3 linked regions of the Homo sapiens genome follow. The protein of the gene in region 2 purifies or fractionates together with the protein of the main gene of each other region. This does not show direct contact. Each region holds a gene or a part of one and is shown on either strand. Other genes may lie near its edges.

Evidence for each region.
Region 1: the proteins of MEAK7 (region 2) and CMTR1 fractionate together in Homo sapiens (co-fractionation; one large-scale study listed by BioGRID). This does not show direct contact.
Region 3: the proteins of MEAK7 (region 2) and GMFB fractionate together in Homo sapiens (co-fractionation; one large-scale study listed by BioGRID). This does not show direct contact.

What each region holds. Positions count from the first base shown.
Region 1 is NC_000006.12:37,460,686-37,464,412, forward strand, and holds part of CMTR1 (cap-specific mRNA (nucleoside-2'-O-)-methyltransferase 1), read left to right. Parts: intron 1-863; coding exon 864-960; intron 961-1,284; coding exon 1,285-1,417; intron 1,418-2,143; coding exon 2,144-2,323; intron 2,324-3,727. UniProt on the Homo sapiens protein: S-adenosyl-L-methionine-dependent methyltransferase that mediates mRNA cap1 2'-O-ribose methylation to the 5'-cap structure of mRNAs.
Region 2 is NC_000016.10:84,498,160-84,501,659, forward strand, and holds part of MEAK7 (MTOR-associated protein MEAK7), read right to left. Parts: intron 1-3,500. UniProt on the Homo sapiens protein: Activates an alternative mTOR signaling through RPS6KB2 activation and EIF4EBP1 repression to regulate cell proliferation and migration. Recruits MTOR at the lysosome, essential for MTOR signaling at the lysosome.
Region 3 is NC_000014.9:54,482,328-54,486,054, reverse strand, and holds part of GMFB (glia maturation factor beta), read left to right. Parts: intron 1-2,287; coding exon 2,288-2,384; intron 2,385-3,727. UniProt on the Homo sapiens protein: This protein causes differentiation of brain cells, stimulation of neural regeneration, and inhibition of proliferation of tumor cells.

The sequences.
Region 1 (3,727 bases), on a different chromosome or scaffold from region 2:
CAGCGTCCTTTTTTCTTTATTTTATTGTAAAAAACACAAATTTGATCATCTTAATCATTTTTAAGTGTTAACAGTAGTGTTAAGTCTATTCACACTGTTGTGCAACAGATTTTCAGAAGTTTTCATTTTGCAAAACAGAAACTGTACCCATTTAACAACACTGTGCCACCTGATGTCCCCTGGCCTCCTTTACTTTTATGTAAGCCTGACTCTGTCTCCTGCTGGGATCTCACAAGGAGGGAGACCACTCTAGAAATAGCATCACACATTCTTTCAGTAAATACCCTGGCCAGAGAGTCTGCCAGCTGGATACAAGAGGCACCGTGGTCTTAGGACAGGAAAGGGGGTATTGTAAGTAAAACCTGAGTCAACAGAGAGAGATTACTGTGACTAGGAAAGTTAACTTTTCTCCTTCACCAGAGTGGGAAGCCGAAGCAGAGTGTTCTCACTGTACTCACTCCCTGGTCTTGTTAGGACTCACCAGAGCATTCTGTTTCCTATGTTGTGGTTGACCTCTGACTAGCCAATATTTTGCCTCTGTTCTGCCTTACTCTTCTCTGGATTCCCATGAGTTAAAACACATTCTAAACCATCTCCTTGGAAAAGCAGGCTTGGTTCCATCCCCTGAGAATGACAGAGCAGGAAAGTGGAGCTGGTCCAGTAGTAGGCCTGGGTCCTGTGCTTACTCCATCTAACAAGCCCAGTGACCTTCTAAAATAACTCAACACTGAGCTGCTTCTTCATCAATCAGATGGTGATCAGTGAAAACACTTCAAGAACTCTCGATGAAGATGAGGTAGTGATGTTATTCTTAGTCCTTCTCTTTTCTCTTTCCCACCCCATTCCTTGTGCTCTCATTTCAGGGTTTCTCGGTGGAGGGGCAGGAGAACCTGCAGGAGATCCTCAGCAAGCAGCTGCTTCTGTGTCAGTTCCTCATGGCGCTGTCCATTGTCCGGACAGGTGACACTTCCTCAGCTGTCTCCTCACCCCAGGACCCACTTAGAGGCCCTATTGGACAAGAACATGTACAAGGGGTTGGTGGGGAAGTTAAAAAAATCTGCTTATATTAGAGGACAGGTAGCTAAATGAGTAATTTAGGGAAGAAAGGGCTGTGGAATCCTCAAAGTCCCCTCCAAAGATGGTTCTCCCCCTTAAATTGTCTCTGAGTTTTAACAGACCCAGGTGCTGGTTTCCTTGACTTTGTCATATTTACTCCCAAGACTACTTCACCCATCTCTTGGAATAGACCCATTGGCTGCTTTTGGTGTTTTCTCTCTAATCTAGGAGGCCACTTCATCTGTAAAACCTTTGACCTGTTCACACCGTTTAGTGTGGGGCTTGTCTACCTGCTGTACTGCTGCTTTGAACGAGTTTGTCTCTTCAAGCCTATTACCAGCCGTCCTGCCAACTCAGAGAGGTGAAGCCTTTCTCTCTATATTAGCCAGATTAATTGGCTAAATGTCAGAACAGCAAATCATGGTGCATCTCTCTGGCATGACCTCTTAAGCTACGTTTAAAACCTTGACTTTAAAGAAGTGATGAGAGCCAACAGGATTCAGGATTCCTGGATCTTTTGGTCTTGTGATATGCCAGTTCAGCCTCTGCCTCCTTCTTCCAAGCCTTATGCTCCATGCTTATGTGAGGGATTCTCAGCTTGGCCAAGGAGAAAGTGACCAATAGTAGGGACACTTCAGGGGTCTTGGGCTGGGAAGGGGCAAGGAGCCGCTATCCAGAGGCACTACTGGGGTCCCAGTGTGACACTGCCCACACACAAGGTGAGAGAAAATGCAACCAATCAGAATTGCCCGGTGGCTTTGTTACAAACACATATTTCTGGGCCTTCTCCTGGGAGAGTTTGATTCATTAGGTCTATAATTTAACAGACTCCCCAGGTGATTGTGACACAGCCCGTCTGTCACAGGGAAGTTAGGAACTACTGCGATAGAGAGTAGAAATAGAGCTCAACAGAGAAGGATTTGAGGGGAACTTTAGCACCACAAAGGGTCTGTGTTGTTCTTTGTGCGTAGGCCTAAGGTTGAACAGGGAAGCCATTAAGCTTTGTGATTCCACAAGGGGTTGGGGGAAAAGGAATGTATGGGGAGGAAGCCCTTGCTCGGTGGAGTGACAGAGTATCTTCTGCCAGGTATGTGGTGTGCAAGGGCCTGAAGGTGGGCATAGATGATGTTCGGGATTACCTCTTCGCAGTGAATATTAAACTCAATCAGCTGCGGAACACGGATTCCGACGTCAACTTGGTGGTCCCCCTGGAGGTGATCAAGGGAGACCATGAATTTACTGACTACATGATACGGTCCAATGAGAGGTAAGCCAACGGGCTGGTTTTTGCTGGTAACACTGAGGTCCTAAGGAAGACCAGAGAGTGAAAGACTGAATGGTTGGCTCTTGGTATCACTTTGTCAACCCTGACAAATTGGCAACTGGGTTTGGTCTGCTGGTTTCAGGGCTCCCTGGGACTTTGGTTAGTTACCCTCAGGGACCCCCATCCTGCTGCCATGCCCTATCCCAAGGGTGGCAGGTAGGTGCCTGGCTAGTATAGGCCTGCCTGCAGGAGCCTGTGTATAACAGTGAAAGCTGACAGAGCAGCCTGTGTCCCTGGAGGCAGGAGTAATTTCCCTTTAATTGCTGCTGTTTGTAAAAGGCCATCATGCTTGTTGCCTGGTGAAGTCCCTGTTTGGAGGCAGGAGATGGATGGAAAGCATGTGTACAACATGCTTTGGAAGTGCCCAAACTTTTGCCATTTCTTCATGAGTTCCCCAGCTGGTGATCCAAATGCTGTTTTCTGTATCTTCTTTGTTTTCCCCACTCCCTGTTAGTGGTAATAATTTAAAGTTGTGACATTTGGCTTAGTTTTCTCAGTGGGCAGGCCTTTGAAAAAAGTGTTTGGAGATAGGCTGGAGGGTTGTATAGTAGTAGTGATTCAATAGAAAATGCTCTCTTAGGGGGCTAAACAGGTGTTGGAAAGGCCTTAGTTAAGGGTCCAACCTTAAGTCCCCCAGAGAAGTTTGAAGATAGAGGTGGCCCTGGAGAATCATAGAAGGGGAGGAAGTCTTTATCCTATTCTCTCCTATTTTTCCAGTATTGCCTGGTGTTTTAACTTTCCACAGTACTGCCATATAAGCGCCCTCATTTTGATAGCAATGGTAGGCACCAAGGTGGAGCAGACAGTAAACTTCAGCATGTTATAGATGAGGAAGCAAACAGGCCCAGCGACCCGCCTGGCTAGGGCTTTGTAACACTTCTGGGTTATGGAACATGTCTTTTGGCTGAACAAGTGTGCATAGATGCATGGCAGAACTGGAATTCTTTTCAGGGGTTCCAATAACACAGAGTGTTTAAGCAACTCTATAACCAGCCACTTTTCTTTTTCTAAAAAAGTTGAGGTATAATTCTGTAAGTGAAATGCAAATCTTAAGTGTATAATCAGTTTACAAATGCATATATCCTTGTAGCCTACATCCCTATTAAGATAAAAAATGTGGCCGGGCGTAGTGGCTCACACCTGTAATCCCAGCACTTTGGGAGGCTGAGGCAGATGGATCACGAGATCCGGAGATCGAGACCATCCTGGCTAACACGGTGAAACCCCATCTCTACTAAAAATTCAAAAAAAATTAGCCAGGCGTGGTGGCGGGCGCCTGTAGTCCCAGCCACTTGGGAGGCTGAGGCAGGAGAATGGCGTGAACCCAGGAGGCAGAGCTTGCAGTGA
Region 2 (3,500 bases):
ACAGAAAATAAATGTTGAGAATTATATGGTCAAGTTAATATATACTGATATAGCCACAAAATGTAGCTAAAACACATCAGAGCTACATAATACTGGGTTTTGGGTTTTGTTTTTGTTTTGTGTTGCTGAGGTGGGATCTCACTCTGCTGACCAGGCTGGAGTGCAGTGGTGCCATCACAGCTCCCTGCAGCCTCAACCTCCTGGGCTCGGGCAATCCTCCCCACTCAGCCTCCTGAGTAGCTGGGACTACAGGACCACACCAGGATGCCTGGCTAATTTTTTTTTTTTTGTCTTCTGTAGAGATGGGGTCTTGCTATGTTGCCCAGGCTGGTCTCCAGCTTCTGGCCTTAAGTGATTCTCCTGCCTCAGCCTCCCAAAGTGTTGGGATTAGAGATGTGAACCACCGTGACTAGCTAATATTGTTTTGATGTGACAGAAATCAATAGCTGATACAAACAAAGCTGGAAAAGCCCATCGTGACGCCCATGACCTACTGAAACACACCCATAATTGTCACAAAGTCTGGGTTTGAGAACATAGTGCCCAAGCTAATATAATCAAAGGCAGGACAAAAAAATCTGTATTTTAATCAATCTAAATATTCATTCTTTAAAACCAGAGTTAGAAAATATAAATCAAAGGCTGAACAATCACCTGTATTTGAATAAACTCACCTTGAGAATACTGCTACACACTAGTTGGGAAGTTTTTCCTTTGTGATCCTGGCTCTGCCTCCTCCTAGCTGTGTAGTCTTGGGCAAGCTACTAAAACGCTCTCTGCCTCAATTTCCCCATTTGTAAAGCAAGAGGAGTCACAGCCCAGCCTCAGAAGATTGCCGTGATTATCAACCAAGTCAACCAAAGCAAAGGGCCAAGACCTGCCTGGCACTGACCGTGCCTGTATGATCCCGGCCCGTGAGCCTCATCTGTTTGAGGCGCTGGGGTAGCGTTAACAGAGACTGGCACCAAGAGCAGGTGACCTGGGGCCTTGTTCACTGTCACAAACCTCATTATAGGAAAAGACAAGTGTCAAGCAATCGGGGGATTCAAACAAAAAAGCATGGTTGGAAATGAAAACAAACAAAAAATCTCTCAAGAGGTAAGGTGCTGTGACTGTTAATTCCTGGCCCTGGACTTTTTCCGGAAACCCAGTGTCAATGAGACTGCTGGAGAGAAAACGACCTTCTCCCACACAGGCACCTTGATAAACAAAGTCACTGCAGCAGTAAACTTTCCCCCAAGGTATTTAGCCAAGGGGGAAAGGCCATGCTACTAGGGTGGGGCATGAGTCATGGTCCGCACCAAGCCATGACAACTCAAACCCTCAAGGGGTAACAGGGTAATCAGGATCTTTCTCTTCATTGCGATGAGATTCACATAAAATTAACCATTTTAAAGTGTACAGTGGCATTTAGGACCTTCACAATACGGTGCAACCCTCACAGATCCAAAACATGTTCATCACCCTCGGAGAAAACCCTGTACACGAGCAATCTCCTCTCATTCCTCCCTCCCACATGCCCTGGCCATCACCCGTCTACTTTCTGTCCTGATGCATTTCTGTATTCTGGGCATTTCATATAAATGCAATTATATGGCCAGGCGTGGTGGCTCACACCTGTCATCCGAGCACTTTGGGAGGCCAAGGCAGGAGAATCACTCGAGCCCAGGAGTTTGAGACCAGCCACAGCAACGTAGCAAGACCTCATCTCTACTAAAAACGTAAAAATTCGCCAGGCACGGTGGTATGTGCTTACAGTCCTAGCTGCTCCAAAGGCTGAGGCGGGAGGATCGCGTGAGCACAGGACGTCAAGGCTGCAGTGAGCTATGATCGTGCCACTGCACTCCAGCCTGGGTAAAAGGGCAAGACCCCGTCTCTAAAAAAATAATAAATGGAATTATATGATGTGTGGCCTTTTGTGATTGTCTCTTTTCATTTAGCATCGTGTTTTTGAGGCCCACCTATGTTGTAGCGCGGGTCAGCATTCCACTCCTTTTTATGGCTGATTAGTATTTTGTTGTATGGATGGACCACCTTTTGCTTATCCATCATTAGCTGAAGGACACTGGGGCTGTTTCCACCTTCCGGCTATCATGAATAGTGCTGCAATGAACATCTGAGTACCTGAGTCCCCCTGTTCCAATTTCCAGTGTCGACACCTAGGAGTGGACTTGCTGGGTCACATGGTAATTCTGTTTAACATTCTGAGGGGCCGCCAAGTGCTCTCCACTCTATAATCCCATCAGTAAAGCATGAGCTTCCATCTATCCACACCCCCACTAAAGCGAGTTATTTCTCCGCCTTTTATATGACACCCATCTTCGCAGCGGATGGGCCTTTAACAGGCCTCACTGCTAATGTGCCCCTCTGCACAGGAAGTCTCCACTGGGGGGCTCCTTGGAAGGGGATGGGGGTGCACTTTACACAGACAGGCTGGAAACGAGGGCTTACCCGACCCCGTTTGGGTGCTCACCCACGCCCCATCTGATCTCACCGCTTCCACTCCTCACGTTTCGCAGCAGCAGAAGAGCCCAGAAGGAAAACCTCCAGCCTGGACTCAATGTCCAGCGGCAGGCGGCTGTCCCCAGCTCTGAAACAGAGGGGCTGCACCGGCTGAGTCTGGGTGCTGCAGGGACACAGCCCAAGCAGCCAAAACAAAGCAGACCCACCCTCTGCATCAACTCGAAGAGCCTGCAAGGTGGGCCACACCATCTCCTGAGGTCAGGAGTTCGAAACTAGGTTGGCCAACGACATGAAACCCCATCTCTACTAAAAATACAAAAAAATTAGCCAGGCATGGTGCTGTGCACCTGTAATCCCAGCTACTTGGGAGGCTGAGGCAGAAGAATTGGTTGAACACGGACAGCGGAAGTCGCAGTGAGCCGAGACCACGCCACTACACTCCAGCCTGGGCAACAGAGTTAGACTCGTCTCAAAAAAAAAAAGAAAAAAAAAAAAAAAAAAAAGAGGGGAAACAGAGACAAGGGCATGGGGATGGGTGTGGCCTGGGGGTGTAACAAGAAGAGTGAAGAGTGGAAAAGGTCCCAAAGGTCACATTCCAGCTGAGTCTTCAGAGACTCACAGGTGATTCACCAGGAAGTGGGAACAGCACGCACGGGGCATAAGCAAGAGCGTTGGGATCAGCGAGGCAAGGGTGGAACTCAGGGCACGTGGGGGAGGGCAGCAGAGGGCTGCAGCAGAAGGGGGCCCAGGCCTGACTCCACCCAGCCCCTCACTTCCATCCCACCCCAACTCCCACTTTCTGCCAGAAACAGGCTCCCCCACTGTGGTCGGAGAACAGCAGCAGGGTGCAGCCTGGCCAGCCCTCACCAACCCCAGACAGCCGGGAGAAAGGTGCAGGGCTGGGCAAGTGCCAACAGGCAGGACAGGAACCCAGAAATGCACAGAAGCGGCGCAGACCAGGGCAGGCCCAGGAGATGACAGGAAAGGCTTGGACGCAGAGCCAGGCTGGCAACGCCACTTTTTCAAGCAGGAGAGAG
Region 3 (3,727 bases), on a different chromosome or scaffold from region 2:
TGGTCTCGAACTCCTGACCTCATGATCCGCCCGCCTCGGCCTCCCAAAGTGCTGGGATTACAGGCGTGAGCCACTGTGCCCGGCCCGGGGTCTGGTTTTATTCTGCATATAGCTATCTGGTTTTCCCAGCACCATTTATTGGAGAGAGTGTCCTTTCCCCAGTGTATGTTTTTGGCATCATTGTCCAAAATGAGTTGGCTATAAATGTGTAGATTTACTTCTGGGTTCTCTATTCTGTTTCATTGGCCTGTGTGTGTGGTTTTATGCCAGGATCATGCTGTTTTGGTAACTATTGTTTTGTAGTATATTTTGAAGTACTGCTTTGTTCTTTTTGCTGAGGGTTGCTTTGGCTATTCACAGTCTTTTGTGGCTCCTTACAAATTTTAGGATCTTTTCTCTCTTGCTTTTAAGAATGTCATTGGTATTTTGATGGGGATTGCATTGAATCTGTAGATCACTTTGGGTTAGTATGGACATTTTAACAATATTATGTCTTGTAATCCATGAGCTTGGAATCTTTCCATTTTTGTATGTTCTCTTCAATTTCTTTCATCTGTGTTTTATAATTTTCATTGTAGAGATCTGTCACTTCTTTGGTTAAATTTATTCCTAAATTTTTTATAGCTATTGTAAGTGAGATTGCTTTCTTGATTTCTTTTTCAGATTGTTTCCTGTTGTTGTATATAAATGCTACTGATTTTTGTATGTTGATTTTGTATCCTAAACTTTACTGAAATCATTTATCAGTTCTAATAGTTTTTTTTTTAATGGAGTCTTTAGCTTTTTCTAAATATAAGATCATGTTGTCATAAACAAGGATAATTTGACTTCTTTTTTTCTAACTTGGATGTCTTTTATTTCTTTCTCTTCCCTAACTGCTCTGGCTAGGACTCCCAGTACTATGTTGAATAAAAGTGGTACAATTGGGCATCCTTGTTTTACTCCAGAACTTAGAGTAAAGGCTTTCAGTTTTTCCCCATTTAGTATGCTGTCAGCTGTGGGTTTGTCATATATGGCCTTTATTGTTTTGAGGTGTGTTCTTTCTATACCCAATTTGTTGAGGGTTTTTATCATGAAAGGATGTTGAATTTTATCAAATGTTTTTTCAGCATCTCTTGAAATGATACGATTTTTGTTATTCTGTTAATGTAATGTATCACATTTATTGATTTGCCCATGTTGAACCATTCTTACATCCCTGGGATAATCCCACTTGATCACGGTGAATGATCTTTTTAATGTGTTGTTGCATCTGGTTTTCTAGTATTTTGTTAAGGATTTTTGCATCTATGTTCATCAAGCATATTGACCTATAGTTTTTTTTTGTTGTTGTATACTTGTCTGGTTGTGGTATCAGGGTAATGCTGTTCTTGTAGAATGAGCTTGGAGGTATGTTCTCCCCTTCAATTTTTTTGAATAGTTTGAGTAGAAGTGGTGTTTTAAATCTTTGGTAGAATTCAGCAGTGAAGCCCTCAGATCCTGAGTTTTTCTTTGATGGGAGACTTTATTACTGTTTCAGTCTCATTACTCATTATTGGTTTGTTCAGGTTTTCTATTTCTTCATGGTTGAGTCTTGGTAGATTGTGTGTGTCCAAGAATTTATCCATTGCTTCCAGGTTTTCCATTTTGTTATAGTGTTCATAATAGTCTCTAATGATTCTTTGTATTTCTGTGGTATCAATCGCAATGTTTCTTTTTGTCTCTGCTTTTATTTCTTTTGCACATTCTTAGTAGCTCCTTTTTATATCTCTATAATCATTTAATTATAATATAAAATATTATTGGTCTTTACTCTTATGGGGTTTTTAACACTTTTGTTGCTTATATTTTTTTTCCCCTGTAATTGTGAGGACAAAAAATAATTTATTAATTCTAAGTATAATCAGATTATTTTCTTGTTCTTCCTTCACTGTGTAAAAATAGTATGCTTGACTCCCTTTCTAACAGCAGACAGTGATTCTTGACTTTCCCCATATTCTTCCCTTCCTCTCCAGTTCTGATGACATTGCACATTATTATGTGTGTGGTTTTTGAGACATTCATTAGCCAAAGAGAAAGTTAAAATATACCTTACATATATGAGATGAACAAATTTGTAGGATTAAGCAATGTAGATCCAAAGGTTGGTTGATTTTAAAGTTCTTTTAAGTGTTCATGTATTTAATGCTTTCACTTAATTGACATTTGTGAATGTCAGTATGCATTATAAAGGTATTAGGTTTCATAACTTTAACATGTACATATATTGAAGTCATGGCATTTTATGTGTGTTTTTTTTCTTTTATAGAGTGAGTCTTTGGTTGTTTGTGATGTTGCCGAAGATTTAGTGGAAAAGCTGAGAAAGTTTCGTTTTCGCAAAGAAACGAACAACGCTGCTATTATAAGTAAGCTAAAAGTGATTGCCTCAAAGTTACATGGTCTTAATTTGTTTTTAATCTTGTAGCTACATTGAATGAACTGAACCGTTGGAAAGCAATGTTACTTCCTCTGTTTCATTTCCCCACCACCACCTTTAGATCACTTTAAAAAATAAGTAACAGCTAATTCTAATGTCACAGAACAGAGGTGGATTGTCCCACCTCCCCCATAGTCCTTTTATCAGCTGCCTGTACAGCTCTGGAGAAGGCGGTCGTCTTGGTCCTTGGGTAATGAGGATTCCCATCTGCAGTGACCCATCCAACCCATCCTTCTTGGGGGACTAAAAATAGCCTGGCCATTCATCCTCAAATAGAAACCTTTGCCTACACCTAAAATGACAAAGTTCAGCATTGTGTACATAGTGACTTTGGGCATTATTCCAGTTGTAGATTTGAACTCTGGTTTCAGGAAGAGTACTTTTAAGTGGCACTGGCACTATCTTCTGAAAATGGAAAAAGTGATTTGCATATTGCTCCTCCCACTGTGAGCTATATCTGACATTATGCAGATTTCCCTTGTATTCATAGGCAGTATTTAATATGTAGGTAGTGATTTAGAAAGATGAGGAAAGGATGAGGGGGTGAAAATGTAAAACTCTAGAGACCATGCTTAACAGAGATGCATCTGGCAGATGTGATTTAATCAGAGGTCATGACAACTTGTCATGAATTCTGATTTCATTATAAATAAATACTGCAATGTCGACATATGGTTCTTAAAAGTGAAAAAAAAATAAAAGTGAAAATGTGTGTTAGTGCCATTTACTGCAAAAGCTGAAACTATTTGAGATTACATTATATCTCACAAGATTTACTATCAAATTGGTGCAAAACCAAACATGGTCAACTTTGCCAGACTAACAGGAAAGGATAGAGGCATAGAGTATCTAAACTTATTTTGATTTAGCTTTGGATTACATTAGATATATTTGAATGTAGATATCACTTCTATTTGGTTATTCACTTTCTTAGAATAATGATACCGTGCCATGAAATCCTGACCTTGGAGAAGCCAGGAATTTTGAGGTTTCTCTATTTTGATCCCCGATCAGGCACTTTTTCCCTTGCAGTTCTGACCATGTTGCATATAGACCAATCAGTTACAGTTACCCTTTCAGGCTTTTTCTTATTATCTAGAAGTTGGATTTGAGTTACAAAGTTCTTTCATATACACAGGAAATGTAAGAAATTAACAGCAAGTTCTAAATAAGCAAATTAGGTACTGGGAATTATGGGTAAAAGCTTTTAAAAGCTGACAGCTTGAAAAGCAAAGCTAGCTAATAAACCGTAAACTAAAACTGTGAATTAGT